Linked DNA regions of Homo sapiens: region 1 is linked to region 2. The links come from fine-mapping of genetic effects on gene expression. Tissue or cell type: whole blood. Region 2 holds a variant in brackets; the other region holds the start of a gene. All regions are shown on one strand. Distances are between the middles of the regions.

Region 1 (8,105 bases), 90 kb after region 2:
AGCCTGAGCAACACATTGAGATGCTAACTCTAAAAATAGAAATAAAAATAAAAAAATTAGGCTAGCCTGAGCCAGGCTCAGATGTTCTTCTAGCATTTTTTTGGCAACAAATAATTTTTTTTTTTTTTTTTGAGATGGAGTCTCGCTCTGTCACCCAGACTGGAGTGCAGTGGCGCCATCTCTGCTCACCGCAAGCTCCACCTCCCGGGTTCACGCCATTCTCCTGCCTCAGCCTCCCGAGTAGCTGGGACTACAGGCACCCGCCACCATGCCCGGCTAGTGGTTTTTTTTGTTTGTTTGTTTGTTTTGTATTTTTAGTAAAGACGGGGTTTCATCCTGTTAGCCAGGATGGTCTTGATCTCCTGACCTCGTGATCTGCCCGCCTCGGCCTCCCAAAGTGCTGGGATTACAGGCGTGAGCCACCGTGCCCGGCCAACAAATAATTTTTAATTGATATATATATATATATATATATTGCTTTTTTAGAATGTCATTGCACACTTAACAGACTACAGTATATTGTAAACATAACTTTATACGCACTGTGAAACTAAAAAAAGAAAAACAAACGAAATACATTTTGTAAGGCTATAACTACCATAGACAGTGATCAGATTCTTCTGACAGATCTGAGCAAAGTAAATTGAAAACCTTCTGGAAAGGATTCATCATTCTAGATGCCATTAAGAACACTGATGATTCATGGGAGGAGGTCAAAATATCAACATTAACAGGAATTTGGAAGAAGCTGATTCCAGCCCTCATGGATGACTTTGAGGGGTTTAAGACTTCAGTGGAGGAAGTAACTGTAGATGTGACGGAAAGAGCAAGAGAACTACAATTAGAAGCAGAGCTAAAACTTGAACAGATGAAAAGTTGCTTCTTATGGATGAGGAAACAAAGTGGCCTTTTTTTTTTTTTAAGACAGGGTCTTGCTCTGTTGCCCAGGCTGGTCTGCACTGCCACAGCTCACTGCAGCCCTGACCTCCCCTCCCCGGCTCAAGCACTCTCCCTGCTTCAGCTTCCCAAATCACCACAACCGGCTAACCTCTATATTTTTTTAATGGGATTTTGCCATGTTGCCCACGCTGTTCTTGAATTCCTTGGCGCAAGCAATCCTCCTGCCTCAGCCTCCCAAACTGCTGGGATTATAAGCGTGACCCCATTACGCCTGGACAGAAAGTGGCTTCTTGAGATGGAATCTACTCCTAGTGAAGATGATGTGAATATTATTGAAGTAGCAACAAAGGACTTAGATTACAAAAACTTAGTTGATAAAGCAACGATAAGCAACTTAGATGATAGGTGATAAGCAATTAGTTGATGAAGGGTTTGAAAGGACTGACTCCAATTTTGAAAAATGTTCTATGGTGAGTAAAATGTTATCAAACAGTATCACATGCCAGAGTGAAATCTTTCCTGAAAGGAAGAGTCCATCGATGCGGCAAACTTCACTAATGTCTTACTTTAAGAAATTGCCTCAGCCATCCCAAACTTCAACAACCACCCCTTATCAACCATCCTTACTAGTCAGCAGCCATCAACATGGAGGCAAGACCCTCCACCAGCAAAAAGATTACAATTCCCTAAAGGCTCAAATTTCTTTAGAAATTTTTAGCAATAAATAATTTTTTAATTAAGGTATATACTTTTTTTAGACATAATGCCATTGCACACAATAGACTACAGTATATTGTAAACATAACTATATGCACCGTGAAACTAAAAAGTTTATGTGACTCACTTCTTTTCCTTTATTGCAGTGGTCTGGAACCAAAGCCACAATCTCTCTAAGGTATGCCTGTACATGTACCTATAGATAAAGCAAATATGGCAAGATAACAACAAATGTTTAATCTAGAGGGTCAAGATACAAGTGGTTTACTATTACCAAATTTTCTGTATGCTTGAAATTGTTTGATAATAAAAAGTGGGAGGTGGGGGGAAATAGCTCCAATTCTATAGGGAAAGAGAAAATCAACCTGAAACCAACGCTGTAGGAAATGCAGAGTATCAAACATGACTTTATTTTAATACAGCACCTGTTAGTTTAACCCTTTGGTACCAATAAAGTAAACTAGAAACAAAAGCTCCCCCTAAAACATTGCTTATAAGACTCAGTCTCTAATGCAATCCAATTATTTAAGATAAGCCTTTAACAGCTAGTTTCTCAAAAGAGGCACATGGATAACCATTCTATAATGATATCATATACAACATAATTCAATAAGATTCAACATGTTTATATTTTAACCAAACAACAAATCAATCTGTAAACCATCCACATGTTAACTTTGTAATTTCACCTTTTCTCCACAGAGACTGCAAGACCACAAATTTTCTTCAACTTGATAATATACTAGGAAAATTACAGAGTAATATAACTGGGCATCAATAGATTTGTTAAACATTTGCAATTATGCATAGAGCTTCAATTACTCAAAGGAAATGTATCGACTTTTTTTCAGTACAGAGCTCTGGCTCCTTATTTTTTCCTCTCACCATAGTTTTAAAAAATACAAAACTCATGCTAAAATGAGAATTTTCAGTTAACTTATAAACACTGACTAGTAGCACTCCATACAAATGAAAAAGAATCACACCATCAAACTTCCTACGATATTCTACGCATTAAAATTTGACATCGAACTAAAAAAGATTGCATAAGACAACGAACAAATCACTAAATTGCCACATAATCCAGCAACAAATTTTGCAACAAGGAAATCTCAAGCAAATAACCCAACTGTGAGTTCCCTTTGGGCATCAAGGTCAAACTACAAAAGTAAATTTGTGACTTTTCAAGATCTATGCAGTTTTACCAAATGTATTTATTTTTTGTGAGAGAATAATTTTTTTCTGTCCAGTACTAGTACATAAAAAGTAAAGGTATCTGAAGCCATCTTTTAAATTTTTTTTAAAGCCAAGAAAATGATTTGGCAAAAGATATCGAAGAGCTTACGTTAGGGAAAACTAAACTGTATCTGTCTATGTGTTTAGAATTTATCCCATTAAAGAAACTGCCCAGTTAGTCTCATTTTCTAAACGTATTTATTTTTTGCAAGACGAGAAATACAGTCTTACAAAAAGACATCTGCATATTCGAACCAAGCCTTCCTGGATTACTACCTTCATGACCTTGGACAAATGCCTTAATCTCTCTGAGCCTCAAGTTTTCACCTGCAAAATGGGGCAATTTACCCACCTCATTGAGCTGGGAAGATGAAGAGAGATAATGCATGACAACTGCCGGGCGCAGACTAAGAGCACCCTAAGTGCTACCTAAATATTCCGTAAAGAGAAAAGGGGGAAACAACCTTACATCAAAAGATTACCACACTGTGACAGTGCAAAGACAAGCACTTTTTCGCTTACTGCATGTACCATTTCTGCTTCATCCCAAGACCAGATGCAACCTTTCTTCTAAAATCTCTGCAGGGTACGTGTCTGACAGCTAACACAGCCCAGCAGCCTACTTCGCGCTGACCTGGGCTTTAGGACTGGATGCAGGGGGCCCAAGGTCCGCCCTCCCGCAGCTAGGCAATCACCCAGCGAAATCTCCGCCCCTGGAGCGGCGCTTAGGCCGCCGCCAGCCCCCCTCCCGGCGCCCAGCCCGCGGCCCCCGACACACACGCGCGCACACACACACACACACACACACAAGCGCGCGCGCACGCACACACGCACGTACCGGCTGCTCCGCAGGGACGTAGAGAGCCGCAGGCCCAAGGAGGGGCCGCCCCCGCCGAGCCCGCCCCTCCGCCCCAGCGCGGCCTGTCACCGCGGCCCCAGGTCGGGGGCTGCCGCAGGGCCCCCGGGGACCGGAGGGGCGCGCGAGGAGTCGGGCGCGGGCCTTGGGGCCAGGCCCGTCCCTCTTTCACATGAAGCCCGGGCCGGGCGGGGTGGCGGGCGCGTGAATCCTCGCAGCCGGCCGGGTCCTCCTGGCGCTCCTCGGCACTTCTAGCCGCTGCAACCCCGAGGCCCGCGGGAACTGGGCAGGAAAGGAGGAAGCCGCGGGCCCGCGTCGCTAGAGACCGGAGAAGAGGCGGGAGTGGCGACTCTGCGGACAGGGGCGCCGAGCGTCCTGGTCGTTGTTTTCGTCGCCGCCGCGGGCCGTGCAACCCCCGAACGCTGCGCCCAGCGGCCGCGGCACCCTCGTCAGGCGCCGCCGCTGAGGGCAGGCAGCCCGGCAGCCACTACACACGGACCCGTGACGTCGGGCGTAGCGCGGCGCACGTCACGGCCGCTCGCTCGTGCGCGCGCACCCCTCCGCCCGGCGGTAGCGGAACCCGCCGCGGGCGCGCGCCCGGCCCAGGGGAGTGGGTCGGCGCCTGCGCAGAGGCCCGCCACGCCCACACACAGGCCACCGCCCCCACCGGCCGGACGGCGCGGGGATTCCCAGTCCTGGCTCCGCCCCGGCCTCGGCCCCGCCCCCGCCCCTGCCCCGGGGCAGCCTGTGCTGTTCCGTGTGCGCGGCGCATACGCACCTGGGTTGTCTCGAGCCTGCGGTAGTGGCCAGATCCCAGACATCCGAGTAGATCCCGTGAAAAGGTCTCCCACGTGGGCTGTGGACAGGGCCCAAGGGTAGCAGAGCTAGCAGAGGCAGTGACGGACTGTGTGGCAGGTCATTTGCAAGGAGAAAAGCCGTCTGCCTCTTAATTTGTGGCTCAAGTTTCAGAATTTTTTTCCTGAGGGACTTTAGAAATTACTTCAGGCTTGCCACCTAACCTTAAACCACCCCCTTGGAGACTGGCTAAGTGTTATTTGTGTTTTCTGTTTAGTTCTTATCACCATCGATACTTGGTTATGACTGGTTGTGTACATTGGTTAGCCCAGCAAGTATTACTTCTCCAGCTTAACAGATGTGGAAACTTAAGCCCAGAGACATGAGTTGACACCCCACCCCCAAAGCTAGAGTCTAAAACCCTTTCTTTCGCTCCTCATCTCCCACAGGATAAAATGCAAATTAATCAGACTAGTGGTGAGGCCCTCCGTGGTGTGACTAACCTGCATCCCGACGTTTTCACCCTACTTTGATCCAGAAAGCACCTTTCCGCCCCATCTCTTCTCCTTTCCTTAAATACCCCTTACAACTTCCTGTACCATTCTTCCCTGTTCAGCTTCTTCTTGGTTTCTTCGTACATTCTGGATCCACCCCTTTCATGCATATTCCAGACCACATTTCCACTGGAGCAGTTGAAATGAGAGAGATGGGAATGGGACTCACCCGAACCAGAGGTAAGGAGCTACCCAACTTGGGCTCTGAGGGTCAAGGGAGCTGGCACTTGTGGGGCAGAGACTGAGGGAGAAACTGTTGTGTAATGTCAAAATATCTCTGGGTTTCTTCCAGGAATTTTTATTACAGACCCATTAACAGAGGTGTCAAAGTCACAGGAACAAGGATGTGCACCTCAGAAACACAGAGGTCAGTGGAAAATCAGTTTGCTTCTATTTGTTTAAAAAATGGGGGACTTATGCATAAATCTAAGACCTTCTTGAATCTAACATTCTAAGACCTGTATGCCACAGAAAGGAGGGTCTCAGAACGCCGGAGGATAGTATTTAAATCTTAAATATCTATATTGTTCTCCACAGTTACTGGGTCACCACATAGCAGGCATTCAATAAAAACGTGTTTGTTTACTAAGTAATCTAGAGATAAATTTTTTCCCCTCATAGTGCTGCTCATTTCTCCACTCCCTTCCCTCACTTACCACCCCGGGGACTTCATTCACCTCTGGGTTCCTCAGAAACATCCCGTGGGTATAGTTATAGTAGCTATTCTTTCTTTTTCGCCATTCTCCTTTTATATTGGTGACTTTTCCTCTTGCTTAGATATTAAATCTCTGACATCTTTGGTTATTTTAGTATATATGATTACAAATTAGTGATATTGGGATTTTTTTATTGATGAAACCATCATTCAATGAATATTTTTTTGCCTTCCTACTCTGTGCCTGGGATTGCAGTGATAAAATTATATAGTCCCCACTGCCCAGGAACTCAGAATCCTGTGAGGAAGGCAGACAGGTAAATGGATAATGATAACACACTGTGACCTGCATCATGGGAGGGATGTGTATCAGGCACCACAGCAGCAAGAGGAAGATGTCACAGGTGTGTCTGGGGAAGTGAGAGATGACTTCAGAGAGGAAATGTGGCATGTTCCTTTTCTGTTGCTGCATAACAAACTGCCACAAACTTAGTGACTTAAAACAGTGTCTGTTTTTTAGCTCCCAGTTATACAGATCAGAAGTTTGCACAGGGGCAAGGCTGAGTTCTCTACTCAGGGTATATTGCAAGGCTGAAATCAAGGTATCAGCTGGGCTGACTTTTTATCTAGAGGCCCTTGCAAAGATCTTCCAAGCTCATTCTTCTTTGGGGCACAATTCAGTTTCCTGTGGTTGTAGGATTGACATCCCTATTTCCTGGGCCTGCCTTCAGTTCCTAGAGGTCACCTGCATTCCTTGCCACATGACCCCTTCCATCTTGAAAGCCAGCGACAGAGACCTTCTTGCGTGCCAAACATCCTCCTACATCAGATCTCTCTCTAACTTCCTCTTTTGCTACCAGCCAGAGAAAACTCTCTGCTTTTATTTTTATTTATTTTTTTATTTTTGAGACAGAGTCTCACTCTGTCGCCCAGGATGGAGTGCAATGGCGCAATCTCGGCTCACTACAACCTCCGCCTCCCAGGTTCAAGTGATTCTCCTGCCTCAGCCTCCTGAGTAGCTGGGATTACAGGCACCCACCCCCACGCCCAGCTAAGTTTTGTATTTTTAGTAGAGACAGGTTTTCACCATGTTGGTCAGGCTGGTCTCGGACCCCTGACCTCGTGATTTGCCCACCTTAGCCTCCCAAAGTGCTGGGATTACAGGCATGAGCCACTGCACCCGGCTTTTAGAGAGTTCATATGATTAGATCAGGCCCACTGAGATAATCTATTCTTAACATCAACAGTGTCACATAACATAACCTGATCATAGGAGTATAATCCATTATATTCACAGTACTGAGGGTTATGCAGGCTATGTACACCAGCCGTCAGGGATCTGCAGGGACATCTTAGAATCTTGCTGGCCACATATTGTGCCATGGCTGGCAACTGAAACTTGAACGGGGGTAGTTATTTGCTGGAAGAAATAAGGATGGAGGAGTACGCATTCCAGGCAGAGGGAATCAAGTGTGTCCAAGCTTGGAAGTATGAGGGAACGTGCCCTGCCTAGGAATGGCAAGAGTTGCTGGCCACTGGGTGTTGAGAGAAATGCAGGCAGGGGGTGAAGCTAGAGAAGGAAGAGAGCTGCCAGGAGATTGGGAAGGAGGAATATTAGAGCAGGCCAAATTGCTGGGAAGGGAGATGAAAGTCTAAAGGTCTAAACCACAGCTGTGGCCATGAAAATGATACGAGTACTATTGGTTGGGATGCATTCAACTGCAGCGAGCAAGACACCTGGCCCAAAACAGCTTAAACAGTGAGGTTGATTTTGTCACATAACAAAAATCCAGTGGATGGATCCAAGGTTGGTTAGGGCTGTGAACAGGCATATTGAGAATCAATGGACGGCCACCTCAGCTCCAAACATGACCTCCCACACAGTAAAGAAGGGGGAACCATCCCTCTGTTTCTTTCCCTCATTCTTTTTTAAAATAAACTTTTTATTTTAGAATGTTGACGAAAGAGTCAAACTCTATAAAATATTTGAAGAGATTTGTTCTGAGCCAAGTATGAGTGACCATGGCCTGTGATACAGCCCTCAGGAGATCATGAGAACATGTGCCCAAGGTGGCCAGATTACAGCTTGGTTTTATACATTTTAGGGAGACATGAAGCATCAAGCAATACATGTAAAGTGTACATTGGTTCAGAAAGTCAGGACAACTGGAAGTGGGGGCTTCCAACTCATAGATGGATTCAAAGATTTTCTGATTGGCAATTGGTTGAAAGAGTTACTATCAATAGAAGATAATTTCTGGGTTACCGTAAGGGGTTATGGAGACCAAGGTTTTATCATGTGGATGAAGCCTCCAGATAGCAGGCTTCAGAGACAATAGATTGTACATGTTTCTTATTGAACTTAAAGAGTCTGTTCTGTCAGAAATTCCAA
Region 2 (8,085 bases):
GGTCTCTTTTGCCCATGGCAGCTACAGCAGCAGAGAGAAGATGACCCCGCTCCCACAGGCCCGCCGCGGCATCCGCTCTGGGGGGACTTCCGGCTCAATCCGGAAGCTCCCTGTTGTCCACACAGGATGTCCCGCCTCTAGGCGCCGTGATGTGGGTGGCTGGAAGAGCGGAGAGCCAGCGACCGCCGATCTGTTAGCTCGTGCGACCCAGCGGCGGGGGTCCTCCACTGTTCATTTCTCTACAACTGAAGGAAAATACTGTGTGTTGAGCACCTGTGTAGTGCGCGAATTAAAGGCCTCATCCTTCTGGAACTTAAATTTTAATGAAGCCATGTGGGCAATAAATGTGTGTGTGAGAGAGAGAGAGAGAGAATGTGACCTGAGTCCATGGGTAAGGAAGAATTCTTTTTTTTAATTAAAAAAAATTTGGCTGAGCACGGTGGCTCACGCCTGTAATTCCAGCACTTTGGGAGGCTGAGGTGGGTGGATCACTTGAGGTCAGGAGTTCGAGGCCAGCCTGGCCAACATGGTGAAACCCCATCTCTGCGAAAAATACAAAAAAAAGTAGCCAGGCATGGTGGCACACGCCTGTAGTCTAAGCTACTTGGGAGGCTGAGATGGGAGAATCTCTTGAACCCAGAAGGTAAAGGCTGCACTGAGCTGAGATTGCACCACTGCACTACAGCCTGGGCGACAGGCCGAGAGTTCGTCTCAAAAAAAATTTTTTTCTTTTTTTTTTTTTTTTTTTTGAGACGGAGTCTCGCCCTGTCGCCCAGGCTGGAATGCAGTGGCGCGATTTCAGCTCACTGCAAGCTCCGCCTCCCGGGTTCATGCCATTCTCATGTCTCAGCCTAAATAAAGCAGATTACCCTCAATAATGCGGGTGGGCCTCATCCAAATCAGTTGAAGGCCTTAAGAGCAAAGACAGGTTTCTCAAGGAAAAAGGAATTCTGCCTCCAGACTGCAACACAGAAAGTTCTGACTGAGTTTCCAGCCTTTGGACTCAAAACTACAACATCAACTCGTACCTGAATTCCCAACTTGCCAACCCCCACAATTGCATGAGCCAATTCTTTAAAATCAATCAATCAATCTCGCTTGCTCAGTGGGCCTCTTGGTTCTGTTTCTCTGGAGAACGTAACACAGATTTTTGGTACGGGGAATAGGGTACTGCTGTAACAAATACCTAACAATGGGGAAGTGGTTTTCAAATTGGGTAATCGGTAGAGGCTGAAAGAATTTTGAGGCGCATGATAGAAAAGCCTCTATTGTCTTGAAGAGCCTTGGTAGAAGTATGGGCATTAAAGGTGATTCTGGTGACGGCTCAGATGGAAAGGAGAAATATGTTATTGAAACTGGAGGCAAGTGGTAGAGAGCTTGCCTGAATTGTATTCTGTTGGGTGGAAAGTAGAACTTATAAGTGATAAGCTTGGACATTTTGCTGAGGAAATTTCTACATGATGGTTCAAAGTGAGGCCTGGGCCAGGCGCGGTGGCTCACGCCTGTAATCCCAGCACTTTGGGAGGCCGAGGCAGGGGATCATAAGGTCAGGAGTTCAATACCAGCCTGGCCAATATGGTGAATCCCCGTCTCTACTAAAAATACAAAAATTAGCTGGGCGTGGTGTCGCGCGCCTGTAGTCTCAGCTGCTCAGGAGGCTGAGGCAGGAGGATCTCTTGAACTCAGGAGGCAGAAGTTGCAGTGAGCAGAGATCACGCCACTGCACTCCAGCCTGGGCAACAGAGCAAGACTCCGTCTCAAAAAAAAAAAAAAAAAAAACTGAGGCCTGCTTTCTCCTTATTGCTTATAGTGAAATGTGAGAAGAGATACACTGAAGGTGGAATTATTCAACAAAAAGGAACCAGAACTTGAAGATTTGGATCATTCTTATACTCACATTGTAAAAAAAAAAAAAAAAAAAAAAAAAAAAAAAAAAAAGAGAGAGAGAAAGTATGCTCTGGAGAAACACTAAGGATGTGGACAACCATTTATTTGCAAGAGATTAGGTGTGTGGCTTATAGACCCAATCACCCATCTCCACAGAAACCTGGACAGTTTTGACTAGGGTACATAGATGGGATGAAATGAAGGAAGGCTGTTGGACTCCCAGGATTCCACAGGTAGGAAAGGGATTGGCAGGGGCAGTTCAGAGGCCAGTGAGGCTGCTTCCGCCACCACAGGACTGAAAGGGACAGGCTTGGGTTTGAACCCACGGCCACCACCTCCTCAGTTCTGAGGGTGCGGGGCTGCAACCCCAGTGGGCCCTGAGGACAGAGGATCAAGCCAGTGAGGATTATTCTCAAGCCTTAAAATCCTGTCATTGGCCCTGTTAGGTGTCAGACTTTCTTGGCACCTCCAAGTCTTTTTCCTTCCCATTTCTCCCTTTTGGAATGGAATGTGTCTATCCTCTGCCTATACCATTGTAATTGGAAGCAGATAACTTGTCTGTTCTCATGGGTTCATAGATAGAAAGAAAATTTGCTCCAACAGGAAACCTAACCCAGAGTCAATTGATGTGGATGATTTGGGTGATGAGATTTGAACTGATATTTAGATGATACTGGACTTTGAGTTGATGCTAGAATGACTGACTTTTGTTGATGTTGAGATGGGGTGAATGTACTTTGCATGTGGGAAGGATATGAACTTGTAGGGGCCAGAGGACAGACTATGGGTTGAATTGTGTCCCCCACCCCTCAAAAAGTTATTTTTTTTGAGACGGGGTCTTGCTGTTGCCGAGACTGGAGTGCAGTGGTGCGATCTGGGCTCACTGCAGCCTCAACCTCCTGGGCTCAAGTGATCCTCCCTCCTCAGCCTCCCAAGTAGCTGAGATTACAGGCATGCCACCATGCCTGGCTTTTTGTATTTTTTTGTACAGACGGGGTTTCACCATGTTGCCCAGGCTGGTCTTGAACTGCTGGACTTAAGTTGTCCATCGCCTTGGCCCCCCAAGTGCTGGGATTACAGGCATGAGCCACTGTGCCTGACCCAAAAAGATATTTTGAAGTCCTAACCCCTACTACCTCAGAGTATGGCCTTATTTGGAAACAGGGTCTTTATAGAGGTAATCAAGTTAAAATTAGGTCATTAGGGTGGGCCTAATCCAGTAACTGGTCTCCTTATAAAAAGGGGAGCACACACACTTGTGTCAATAGACACACAAAAAGCACCACGTGCTGATGGAAGCAGAGATCGGATTTATGCTGCCACAAACCAAGGGATGCTATCAGAAGTTGGAAGAGGCAGCTGGACACAACGCCATGGAGCACATGTAGTCCCAGCTACTTGGGAGGCTGAGGTGGGAGCCCAGAAGTATGAGGCCAACCTGGGCAACATAGTGAGACCCAATTTCTAATATATAAAAATAAGTTGGAAGAGGCAAGGAAAGATTCCCTTATGGGTGTCAGAAGGAGCATGGTCCTGCCCACACCTTGATTTCTGACTTCTAGCCTCCGTAACTGTGAGACAATAAATTTTTTATTATAAGCCACCTAATGTGTGGTACTTTGTTACAATAGCCCCTATTGTTGGACATTTAGAGTTTTAAGTTTGGGCTTTTATAGATACAACTTAAAACATTCACAATCTATTTCCACAGGTTAATTCCTAGGTATAAATTGGTGGGTCAGAGGATATACAAGGTTCTGAAATTTAAGACAGGGTCTCGTTCTGTCATGAAGACTGCAGTGCAGTGGTGCAATCTCAGCTCACTGCAACCTCTGTCTCCCAGGCTGAAGCGACCCACCCACCTCAGCCTCCTGGGTAGCTGGGACCACAGGCATGCACCACCACACGTGGCTGATTTTTGTATTATTTGTAGAAACAGGGTTTTACCATGTTGCCCAGGCTGGTCTCAAACTCCTGAGTTCAAGTGGTCCACCCACCTCGGCCTCCCAAAGTGCTGGGATCACCATGCCCGGCCAATTCTGAGGTTTCTGATTCTGATTCTGAGGTTTCAATTCTGAGGTTGTGTTAAGTTGCCCTCTATACCAAAGTATTAAATTATCTCCGCCAGGCGCAGTGGCTCACGCCTGTAATCCCAGCACTTTGGGAGGCCGAGGCGGATGGATCACGAGGTCAGGAGATCAAGACCATCCTGGCTAATATGGTGAAACCCTGTCTCCACTAAAAATACAAATAAAATTAGCTGGGCATGGTGGCAGGTGCCTGTAGTCCCAGCTACTCAGGATACCGAGGCAGGAGAATGGCCTGAACGCGGGAGGCAGAGCTTGCAGTGAGCCGAGATCATGCCACTGCACTCCAGCCTGGGCGACAGAGCAAGACTCTGTCTCAAAATAAATAAATAAATAAATAAATAATCTCCAGCACCATGTGAGAGACCATTCCTTATACTCAGTAGGTTTGATAGTAGGGTTTGTGTTTGTTTTTAATCATTAGTTCTGATTTAGGTAATCAAGATGTCCAGCCAAAGATATACTACAAGTTGGGTGGAACATTATAGACTTAGATACTGGAAAGATTTGGTTTAGTTTCATTGTTTTTAGATTTGTCTGCGCTTGGTTTCCTAGAGAGTGCTCAACTCAAGCAAGGAGGGAATAACTGTAAATAAAATGTGTCCAAGAATAGATTTGGAAAAACCAATCACAGTGGAAATAAATATTAGCTTTATTAACACTCAAAGTGCCATTCATTTATATTCATTCCATAGTCCAGAAGGTTACTTATTAGAGTAAGCCTTTGCACCACAATCTTTCAAAAAAATGAACATGTAAGAAAAAGCAGTTTTCATTGTGCTAATTATTGCAGGCCTTCATGCACGTAAACCTCAACAAAATGTGTGCCAACAATATACAAATTTCCATATAAACAAAGTCATTGATCACTAACAAAATATAAACATGGTTTCTTTTATATTAGATTTTTTTTT[A/T]AAAAAAAGCTATTTACCAGCAAGAAAAAACAAGTACCTAGAAATTATAAAACTCAGAAATTGTATACATTTTTACAAGCACAATTTTGAATGACAAACAAAATCAAAATGTGCATGAAATGTTGCACGTACCACACTGTATCTGGCTTCTGGTAGGTTTTCCTAATCACACTGGTTCCTTTTAACATAATAAGCTTAGTGACATTCAACTTCAACAGTGGACTTTATTCCTAACACGAGTAATTTTACATGGTACCGCATATTTAAAACAAAGTTTTCTTTAATACTACATTGTCTGATTGGAAATTTCATTTCCAATTCTTTTTCTGCCAGTTACTTAAAACACACAGTACAATATAAAGACACACAACGTATGTTTGGACATTTCAAAACCAATTTATAGTCAATTACAAAGAATCACAATATGCCAATATATTGTTTTATAAACCCAGTCTGACCTTGCCCAGTGATAGAAAAACTAAAAGTTGAAATCTTTTGGGGTGGAATACAGGAAATATTCAAAGACAACAGTAGGACAGGCCAATAGCAACTGGAGATAGAAAAATCTTGACATCTCGAGACAATTTAGTTTCTCACATTTTTCCATAGCTCTGAGAATTCAAAGGCCATTTTTAGCGGTGTGTTTTTGCTACTGCTTAAAACCTATTTTTCCCTTAATTTGCATTTCACGGAATTCTCAAAGAGAATTTAATGCTTTTTCTTGCAAGAGTATTTTAATTGAGCTCTAAGTATGACTTGCATTCAATTCTGAAAATACAAATACATTTTGAATGGCTAAAAACAAAATTTTAAAAATACTTTTGATCAGCCAGCTGAAAATATATTCATATAGTAAATAATCTCTCAGAAAGCTTTTATATATATTTAATTATCACAACTAAACAGTACCCTTATAAAACAAGTTCATAAAAATGTAGAAATGAAATGAAAATAAGAACTTACTGGGATATATACATGTGCCTACAGACAGAAAAAAACATCTCCACACAAACATACATCCCCTGATACACAGTTAAAAGCATACTTTCAACTTAGTAATGGATTTTATAATACATTATAAAATTTTCTAATTTCTATTAATGTCGAACTCCTGAGTTCTTCAACAAAGAACCATAGATAAGTATAGTTTGTAAAAGCAAAAAGGTCCATTTAAGTCAGTAATAGCAGTGCAGTAACTGATGGCTACATCTTGAAAGAAGTTAAAACATAAAGACACAGACAGTAGTTCAATGCACGCATTCATGATGCTCATACACTCATCAACAATTATTGGTCAGAGTAGTAAATCAGTGTACAAATTAAACATTTCCAAAAATGTGCAAAAATGTCAATCTTAATAGGAAAAAAACCCTTTGTACATAATTATAAACTGCCCAGCATTCAACTGAGATTAAAAACATTTAGAGAGAAACCAATAGGTTAAATATAGAGAATTTAATGGCTACATTTAAAAATGTACATTATTATGTCAAAGGGTAAATTTACAAATTGATAATCATAGTTTGCAACAATTCAAAGTTTATTCTCAAATTTATCCAAGTTTACTTTTATTTACAATGAATAAAAAGAACCATGTGAAATGTAAGAGATGTCAGACATTAAAAGTATTTTTGGTATTAACTCTTATAATATTTCAGAATTCAGGGTAGCAAATTTTAAAACCAATAACAATAGAAAAAATGTAAACCATTTACTAATTAAGATTGCATTAAAACAATTGTTGGTCTTTAAAGAAGTATTCTTATCCTTAGACACTGTACTTTCAATTGAATAGGGTGTATTGCAAGAATTTGGCCCACTTCATATTGCCCATAAGCCTCTCCAGCTCAAATGTTTCAACTAGTCCTCTCTTCTTATTCCAGGTGGAAAAAATTCTTTGGAAAAGTAAGAATACATCAAATCCATTTTGTAGTCTATCTAATAGAGTTTAAGGTGTAATTTTGTTTCTTCTCCCCTCCAAGTAAAGCTAATGCTAAAATCATCACTAGTTACATATGCTTTTAAAAAATAAATTCTAAAAAAATATTTAAAAAGAAGTGAACTTAAAAGTGCTTTTCGGTATGGTCATGAACTTTACTGTTCTCAACTGCATTAAGGGATTCTCAACTGCATTAAGGGATTCAGAAATTATTTGGGGACAAGTCCTGTACATATAGTAGAAGCAGATACTTCCTTATGTTCCAAAATGTCTATGGCACAAAGCAGACATCAGTCCAGAACCTACTTTTCCTCACAGCTTTGCTGAAATGCCCCTCAAGTCAAACATAAGTTCATAAATGTTAAGACACTAGGAAGAAAGTTCGCCATCAACCTGAGGCATCAGACGTTAATGTCTGTCTATGTGAATCAGTGGTCAAGTGACATTAACAAGATTGGCACATGTACAAGCTTAAATTCATGTCTACATAGTTCCTCAATAGTGGAAGTAACTTCTGGATGTCTAAATGCACTGATCACCTGTCCTTTTCCTTGAAGGATATACCAGAATACAAATTCTACTAGTATCTGCTTTATAATTTTTATACTATTAGCTTACAAGTGGACAGAAGTAACAGTGCTAATTATTTTGGCTATGTGTACAGGGAATATAAAAGCTTTGGTTTAAAGTGATTCTGATAATACAGATTGTGTTACAAACAAGAAGTCATCAGGCAGAAGGAACAATGGTACTGATTTAATGCCTTTGCTGTTATTAACAAAAATACCATATGACTATCAATTAAAATGCACAATTATGAAAAATAAGAATTCTATGAGACTGTATACAGGCAACAGATAAAATCTATTCTTTTCTTTACTGTAGCTATGACTCCTCCCTCATCTTTCTGAAGCTCAACCTTGAATGCTTACAGGACCACTGAAAAAAGAATCTCTAGGCTCCCCCAAGAGCTCATTTCCATCAACAGCTCTGGAAGGTGAGTATGGGAAGATGGGAGGCCCTGATACTTCCCACACCTACCATGGCATCCTGTCCAAACCATGGCAGAAGTCAAAGCCAAGCCAAAGACAACTATAAGTAGGAATAGCTGCTTCACAGCATGCTTCCCCTAGCCAACCAAAAAGAGGTACAAGAGAATTTCCTTGTGAATACTTGGTAAGCTAAGGAAGCTTATTTTGATAATGTTTGGCAGAATTTCAGTTCCAAAAAGTTCAGGAAGAACTATGTAAAATCAATT

What was found. PIP is the estimated chance that this variant, and not a neighbour inherited with it, causes the effect.
Region 1: it holds the start of MAP3K2, and the variant in region 2 is fine-mapped to the expression of MAP3K2 in whole blood (TOPMed, PIP 0.99).

The regions. Positions count from the first base shown.
Region 1 is chr2:127,383,761-127,391,865 of GRCh38, forward strand. MAP3K2 (mitogen-activated protein kinase kinase kinase 2) reads right to left here and starts at 4,215. Exons shown (of 17, transcript NM_001371910.2): 1 at 3,692-4,215. MAP3K2-DT (MAP3K2 divergent transcript) reads left to right here and starts at 3,678. Exons shown (of 4, transcript NR_187129.1): 1 at 3,678-3,792; 2 at 5,121-5,238; 3 at 5,351-5,425. LOC124906074 (a long non-coding RNA gene) reads left to right here. Exons shown (of 4, transcript XR_007087227.1): 3 at 1,764-1,795; 4 at 2,320-2,401. RefSeq lists a silencer at 3,635-4,504.
Region 2 is chr2:127,294,066-127,302,150 of GRCh38, forward strand. It overlaps ERCC3 (ERCC excision repair 3, TFIIH core complex helicase subunit), which reads right to left and starts at 79. Exons shown (of 15, transcript NM_000122.2): 1 at 1-79. The coding sequence starts at 16. MAP3K2 (mitogen-activated protein kinase kinase kinase 2) reads right to left here. Exons shown (of 17, transcript NM_001371910.2): 17 at 4,603-8,085. The variant A/T (reference allele first, on the strand shown) is at 4,889.